2 separate regions of the Homo sapiens genome follow, and region 2 is reported to be linked to region 1. Evidence: microRNA targets listed by miRTarBase, many of them from high-throughput screens and not tested one by one. Region 1 holds a microRNA gene; the other region holds the end of a gene's coding sequence.

The links. The annotated mature microRNA hsa-miR-708-5p reads AAGGAGCUUACAAUCUAGCUGGG and lies in region 1 at 2,057-2,079, opposite strand. An mRNA with a match to its seed (bases 2 to 7 or 8) in the 3' UTR can be bound and repressed. Matches are read on the target gene's strand: a 7mer-m8 pairs with bases 2 to 8, a 7mer-A1 pairs with bases 2 to 7 and ends in A, and an 8mer does both.
Region 2: miRTarBase lists C14orf93 as a target of hsa-miR-708-5p. The part of its 3' UTR that is shown has no 7-base or 8-base seed match.

The regions. Positions count from the first base shown.
Region 1 is chr11:79,400,021-79,404,087 of GRCh38, forward strand. MIR708 (microRNA 708) reads right to left here and starts at 2,089; the gene lies at 2,002-2,089. All of the region lies in intron 1 of TENM4 (teneurin transmembrane protein 4), which reads right to left.
Region 2 is chr14:22,983,846-22,987,910 of GRCh38, forward strand. It overlaps C14orf93 (chromosome 14 open reading frame 93), which reads right to left. Exons shown (of 7, transcript NM_021944.4): 6 at 4,058-4,065; 7 at 2,049-3,789. The coding sequence ends at 3,370. AJUBA-DT (AJUBA divergent transcript) reads left to right here and starts at 479. Exons shown (of 3, transcript XR_007064074.1): 1 at 479-975. RefSeq lists a silencer at 2,886-2,995.

The sequences.
Region 1 (4,067 bases):
TCTCTGCTAGAATAAATATTTGTTGATTGATTTGGTAATCAGTTGATTCTAAATACCTGGGAGACACATAAACACACACCACACACACACACACACACACACACACACACACACACACACACACACCCTCCAGGATTATTTCTCCAAGTCTTGTGTGAGGGAGATGCTTTATCAACAAGACCATATCCCCATATCCATCCTGTTGGGTGATATTCAATGGTTAAATTTGCAGCCTGGAGCCAGAATCCAGTCACTGCAACTTTCTGCTCCATGGTCCGCTTCCTTAACCATTTTTTTTTTTTTTAACCACACAGACTCCTTTGAAGACCTTCCCAGACAATGCACATACCTGGAACAAATTGCCTACAACTTCAGGAGTGTCACAGACTTTGTGAAGGGCTTTGTGCCTTCGGGGCTAAACTCCTCTATGCTGGCACATCCCCAAACAAGGCTCTGAAATTGCAAACACTGCTCCTTTCTCCTGACAGGCATCTCTCTTGCCCTCTCCTCCCTGTGCTCTTCCTGGAACTTCAGAAGAGGGATGCAGTGCTGGACTTAAGCTCTGCAATCAGTGCAAATTCCAGTTTCCCCATCTAATGCATCTTTAAGCCTCAGTTTCCTTGCTTACAAAATGGCAATTGTAATAGTGCCTGTGTCACAGAGCTGCTGTGAGGGCTGAGGGGACAGTGCGTGTTGATGCATAGCACAGTGCCTGCACAGAGGAAACACACAATTGAAGTTTGCAATTGTCACTTCTATTCTTATGTTATCTGTTCCCTTGCTCTCCTCCTCCCACAGACATTGCAGTTTGCCATCGTTCCACTTTAAAAGAAGCTCCAGAAGGTACACTCAGCTCCAGAGAACTGGAGATAGCCCTGCATGCCATGACCTAGGTGTCAGGCAGGGGGCACTCTGCCCAAGTCAGACTTGGGACAGCAGGTGGCATATGCCAGACTTGGCCCTGAGAAGCTCTGATTGGGATTTATAAGGCCTATGATTACTAAAAAACAGAAAAATTCAAACTACCGAGTGAAAAATCAGTGGTACAGTAGATTCAAAAGCTTAATAAACAAAGGATCTTGGGGACAGGAAATAATACAAGGGATCCATGGAGGTATAACATTTGAGAATTCTGGTGTCCTTCACCTTTTTGTTTTCCTGCCTCCTTCCCTCCCTCTCTTCCTTTAAAGAACAAGCATGTATTGAGCAGTTATGTATGCAAGCCTTGTGCTAGGCACTGGAAATGAGAGATGAATAACCATGATTCCTGCCCTCTCGGAGCTCACAGACTAATGGAAGAGCCGATTTACAGAAAGAACACAGTGCAACAAGTTCCCCAACAGGGTAAGCACACGTGCTGAGGCTGTCTAACCCCGGAGCCTCAGACTCTTTGAGATGCAAAGGAATAAACAATAATTCCCAGAAAAGGTGACACTCAAATGGAGACCTGTCAATCATTTTTATTAGGCATTTTTGCTGGTTACAAAAGTAATAAATACTTTTTGCAGGAGATTTGGAAAGCACAAGGGTGTCAGAAAAAGAAAACGTCAATCATTATTTTACCATTAGAGGCAACCACTAATACATTCTGAAGCATTTCTCTTTCCATCTATGTACTTAACATCAATGAGTTCATCATGTCTATACATTTGATAGGCTCCCCAGTTTACTTAACATTGAAACATAAGCACTTTTCCATCAAGCTCAGTCCAAATGAGTGACCCCTGGATCTTTGATCTGGGGGACCAAGTCCAGGAGCCTGGAAGCCAGGGCTGGCCCAGAGGAGATATGACAAGCTGGGTTTTGGTGAGCAGGTTGAGTTGGCAGTGCTGTGGAGCATTCCACCCGGGGAGGAACACTGAAGATGCTGGAGAGCTGGGTGTGGCACTCAGGAGACAATTCAGGCCTAGAGGGTCCTCAGGTGGTGGTTGACGCCATGGGGATGGATGAGATCCCTCAGGGAGGGTGTGCAGGGTGAGAAGAGAGATGACTAGGGTAAGGTCCCTGCCCTCTAGAAGCTCACAGTCTAGTTGTGTTCATGTGCAAGTCATTTACCCCCAGCTAGATTGTAAGCTCCTTGAGGGCAGTTACCATTTCACACACAGCAGTCCCTCGCCAACCATGGGGGTTAGGTTTCTGAAAACCCCTGGGGCAGGAGAAGTCAGGCTTCAGGAATTTAGGACCTTATTGGGGAAAAAATAGGGTTAGGGGAATGAAGTCACCAGTGAACTTGTAAAATTATTATATTTTTACATAATGAGAAATGACAATGACAACATATTCAAAACACTGAATATCAGTGACACAAATTATCAACATATTCTTCAATTAACAACATTTTACAACTTATTTTCATGTACCATCTATCCCTTTAGTAGAGCTTGCCCCTTCACAGCTACAACAATATGCTTGTAAATTCACTTTTGCATTGCTGGAAAAAATACACTTGCTAAGAGTCCTTTTCTTATGTGTGGTTTCCCATCCAATTATTCAATGCATTTTGGTTTTTATAACTCCAGGCTACTGACACCTGTCTCTTGGTCCCACCCACAAGTGCAAGCACACACCTACATCCTAACAGGTAGGAGTGTGTTTCTGAGGTCTGATCCACCCCCTCCCACTCTCCTCTCTTCCCCAATTTTACTACAAACACCTCTCCTCTGCAGCCATTTCACCTACTTCCCTCTTCCCCAACCTCTGGGCAGATTTCATCAGTTCCCCCATAGGAATGAGCAAAGACTCCTGACCTTGGGATTCTCCAAGGCTTCTGACAAAGTATGCAAACATGAAGTTGTCAATATTAGAATTTGGTGTCTTTCTTTGGTAGACACTAGCATATCATTCACTCACTAGCTCATAGTAGGTACTCAATAAATTCTTGTTGAACTGAGCAATTTCCAAAGTAAAGGATGTGGACTTTTTTTTCTCTTTCCCCATTCACTGCTCCAAATGAATATTAAACCTTCACACAACATAAATATTGAAATATTTGTAGGCACATTTTATTTTCCCTTCTGGCAGGTCATGATGACAAGAGGCAGCTAATAGATGCAATCTATCTGCATTCACGAAGGCAGTTTTGAGTTCCACATGACATGCTGTCAATAGAGTCAAAAGATATGGCCCTTTAGTGAAGGAATTCTCCATATTTTCCAGCTCAGACCACTTGGATAAAGGAAAACACCTACTAACCAACGATTCTCCCATGCACATTTATGACAAAAAGGTTGTCGCCATGACTAAATGGGAGGACTAGCACTGTTTTTCATGAGATATCAACAAAACCATGTCTTTTAAATGAAACAATAATCAGTTACATTTATACAGCACTTTACATTTTACAAATGCTTTCAGGTACATTTTTATCTCACTTTTTCTTCACAGCAACTCTGCGAGGTAGTCAGAGAAGGCACTGATAGTTCCATTTTGCAGATGAAGAAACTGAGGCTTACTCTAAGGAAGGGACCAAAAGGGGCAACTCACTAGTCAAATTTGATACCCTTTCCATCTCCCATCACTGTTCTGTTGCCAGTTGGGTTACAATGAAAAACACAAAACTAAATTGCAATGCTGTTCCACTGTCATGTAATTGCCAGTGCCCAAGAGGTAGCCCACCCCTCGACACTCACATTCTCCCATTCCTCCCACCCCCAGTTGTCTTCCCTCAACCACTATCCACTCCACAAGTCAGTACCCAGACTGGCACATGAAGAATCTGAGTCAGTACCAGAAATGGCATTCAGCACTTCATGCATAGAAGCAAAGCTATGAGGCCAAAAAATCCGGGGGGTTGAGGGGGGTGGTGGGGGTGGTTCACCAGTCTTATCTCATTTAATCCTCTGCAAAATACTCACAATGATCACCCTTTCAAAGATGCAGAAACTGAGGCTCATCATGTGTATTAGCTTGGCCATGGTCACATGCCCAGAGAATGACAGTCAGCATTTGAACCCAGCTTCAGTTCCTGGACAGCAGGGCAGTCCCAAGAAAGCACTTCACTGGCTCAGAGCCACATGTGTTCCATTTCAGCCTCCCAGCTCAGAAGGACCTTGACCCTCCGCTGAAGC
Region 2 (4,065 bases), not on the chromosome of region 1:
AAAATACAAAAATTAGCCAGGCGTGGTGGCGCACGCCTATAGTCCCAGCCACTCGAGAGGCTGAGGCGGGAGAATCGCTTGAACCCGGGAGACAGAGGTTGCAGTGAGCCAATATCACGGCCACTGCACTCCAGCCTGGGCGACAGAGCAAGACTCCGTCTCAAAAAAATTCTCAAAAATAAATAATAATTTTTTTTAAAGAAACCCTAGATGAAGCTAAACATACCTAATTAAATACCAGCCAACGGCCGGGAGCGGTGGCTCACGCCTGTAATCCCAGCACTTTGGAAGGCAGAGGCGGCGGGATCACGAGGTCAGGAGTTTGCAACCAGCCTGGCCAGTATGGTGAAACCCCGTCTCTACTAAGAATACAAAAATTAGCCGGTGTGGTGGCGTGCACCTGTAGTCCCAGCTACTTGGGAGGCTGAGGCAGAAGAATCGCGTGAACCCAGGAGGCGGAGGTTGCAGAGAGCCGAGATTGTGCCATTGCACTCAGGCCTGGGCGATAGAGGGAGATTCCGTCTCAAAAAAATTTTTTAAAAACCAGCCAACTACTTTTGCCCAGACTAAAACATCAGGGGCAAGGGGTGGAGGAAGTAGAATGGAGAAGGAAAATGACTCCTTTGTATTTAGATAGTAAATGAGTATGAAAATTATATGCAAACAAGTCATGCATATTATTTTCATCTCAACATTTTGAACACCTTTTATAATCTTAGTGTAGCCTTAGGGAATGTGGAAAGAAACGAGGTTAATATCTTTTGGGAAATTAATTTGTGCCAAACTATTTGGCTTCTTCGTCCTAGTTGCATTGTCTCCCTGACCTCATCTCCCCTGAGAATCAGCCTCTGTTTCCCTGGTCAAGGCCACGGCTTTTCTCTGATCCTGAGGAGAGTTTCCTACCAGAGTGGAAGCAGGGAGGACTGAAAGCACTAGGAACAGAGGGGAGCTATCGGATTGCATCTAGAACCTGCTGTGAGCAACATCTTCAGAATTAACCATAATGTGTTCCCTCCTTTCCTGTGTCCAGATGAGGAAGGAGAACTTTGATTCTTCCTTCCAATTACATCCAAAATATCCACACAACTACTAATATTTGGAAGCTTTGATCCTTTGGGGTGAGGATGCGAGAGGAAATCTTATGAAATGTTGGGAGGCCATTAAAGGAGGCCCATGCAAGAGTTGGTGGTAGCAATGGGCACAACTGGGATGAACAGCCTGTGTTTTCAAGGGATAACTGGAAGCAGAGATGAGTGAAGGGGAAGAAGTAGAAGACGCATATGCTAATAGGGCATGCTCCAATAGTGCTCATGACCTCAGGTGGCCTCTCCACAGTCTAAACTGGAGCTGGGATCTCCAAAGGCCCTCTTCGTTCCCAAGACTTTAATTATAATCTGTATATGCAGGTGACTCCCTAATCCATATTTCCAGCCCAGTCTTTCTTGGAATTAAAAACTCAACTAACTACTAGCATCTCCAATGGCTGTCTCAGAAGCACCCAATATCCTAAACTGATCTCATCTTCTCTGCCTCATGAAACTGGCTCCTCTAACATTCTCTGAGTAAATGGCACAATCCTGTTAGCTGCTTAAACTAGAAATCTGAGCGTCAACCCTATGTCCTCCTTCTCCCTTAACCTCAAATCCAACCAAGTCCTATCAATCACCAAGTTCTATTAATTCTGCTTCCTAAACATCTTCCAAATCTGTCCTCCCCTCATCACCACTATATATGTCAAGTCACCGTCTTTCCTCTCCGAAACCAATGCAAAAGTCTCCTGGCCAAGGCTTGCTCCCTGCAATCCATCTTATACCCTGAGGTCAAGTGATTTTTTTCAGTACAGAAGCTTTACGACTTACAATGGAGTTATGTCTGAATAAACCCATCCATTATAAATTGAAAATATCGTAAGGCAGAAGTGCTTCTTCAACTTCACCATATTTTCAGCTTAAAATGGGTTTATCTGATATAACTGCATCATAAGGTGAGGAGCATACTGAATCATTTCGCACCATCGTAAAGTTGAAAAATCCTAAGTCGAACCATCGTTGAGTTGGGGACTGCCTGTAGGCAAAACCTGTCGTTTTATTTCCCTGCTAAAACAAACTTTCAATGATTTCTCACTGCCCTTGGGTTGAAGTCTGTACTCTGTATTATGAGGTCTGTCTCACTCTCCAGCCTCTCCTCTAGCATTATCCCTTCCCCAAAAGTCTGCAGTAGAACTGGACCTTGTCTGTACTCTCTCTTGCCCCTGGACTTTTGTACCTGCAGTTCCCTGTTTGGAACACTCTCTTAGCCTCCCCTTTCCTTCTGGTTAACTCTTCCCCAGTTTAGACATTACACCCTCTCAGAAGAAGCCTTTCCAGACTGCAAGAGTAGGTTAGCTACCCCTGCTGTATATTGCCATAGTGCACTACACTCCACCATGGTCACCCTTATCACAGTTCATTTCATTGCCTACTCCACTGCCTGGCTTCCTGACTAAACTAAAAAAATCTCTGAACAGCATCCAACCTTATCAACAATGTATCCATAGCACAGTACCTGACACCTAGTAAAGCGATCAATGTTTGTTATAAGACTGAATAAATGTAAAGCCATTTTTGCTTTTCAATCCATCCAAAATGCACACCCCTTCCTCAAAATACAGCTTGGCTGACAGGACCAAGAAACAGCTACAAAGCTGTGTATTTTGCTTGGTCACATAGTGAGAGAGAGGCTGCCGGTGAGACACGGGAACTCTTTAAGCCTTAATTTCCTCATCTGTAAGATAGGAATAGTAAAATTTTCCTCATGTAATTCAATAAACAATAGCTATTATATCAGGAACCCAATTCCCCAATAGTGATAGAACTTGTGTTCCCTTGGTCAGAAGACTCAAGCTCATGACTGAAACTGCCCACCAGGTGGCGGTATTAACCTGCACTGGTCATGTTCGGTTTCCACTGCAGAGCAAGACAAGTAGTCACAGGGAAGCAAAAGGTACAACCTGGGCTGCTTCCTCAGAGCTTTGGGTGGAACTGGGCAGGGGCAGAAACAACTCAGAGACAGGGCATATGTCAAGAAGGCCTCATGTTTCTTGGACCCATCCTCCTCATTTTCTCATCCCAGGCTTCTCCGAGATACTGTTTATGCTGAGGAATAAGCATATTCTGGCTTACTGTTCACAGTGGAGGGAGTTTCTCCCCTTCTAGATAAGTTTTTATCCCACCAGTGTTCTGCTTCCCCAGTAGAGACTGTGTTAAGAAAAGAGGCAAATTTGCTTTCTCAGACTGCACAGAGCATCTCATTATTTTGTGAAGCCCCATGGCCACCTATTTCTGAGACATGGGGCATGGCGGAAGCCAGAGTTATTCTTGGCTGTAGATTTTATTCATCCTTTTCCACCTTGATTTCAATGAATGAGTTCAAGTCAGGACAGCAGGTTTTGTGGGGTTGGTCAAAAGATGGGGAGCCAGGTGCATTCTCATCCCCTCCCTCATCTTCCTCTTCTTGGAAATTAGGATTGTAAAGTTCTGGTGGAAGGAGCTGGGCTTCAGCAGAAGGCAGTCTGTCTGAGGGAGGCCCATACACACGGTTGGCTTTGGTGCCATGCTTAGAGTTAGCATCCAGGTGGTAGCAGAGCTCTGTGAGGCGCTGGGCCCGGAAACGGGGAGGGCGGGCCACCCACACACCTGGCTCGTTAAGACTGTCCTCTTCATCTGACATCAGTTCCTCTGTCACATCATTCCACAGACGTTGGTCCTCAGGTCCAAAATGCCTCATGATACTGGATCGGTTGGCAAAAAGCTAAGGCAGGAACCCAGGAGATAGATTAGGAAGGTAAACATTCTATGGATTAGATTTGGGGAAAAGGTTTGGTGGGGAAGGCTGTGTAAAATCTGTGCCTAAGTGAACCCAGTCCCCAAGTCAGATCTTAGCATTGGCTCACTGTTCTTCTCTATCTTCCTACATTCCTGGCTCTCAACCCTATTCTCATATGCCATGTCCTCTGGCCCTTCCCACTTAGGAAAGGGTTTAGAGTTTAGTATCTTGAAAGAAAGGCCTAGAAACCTACCCGATATC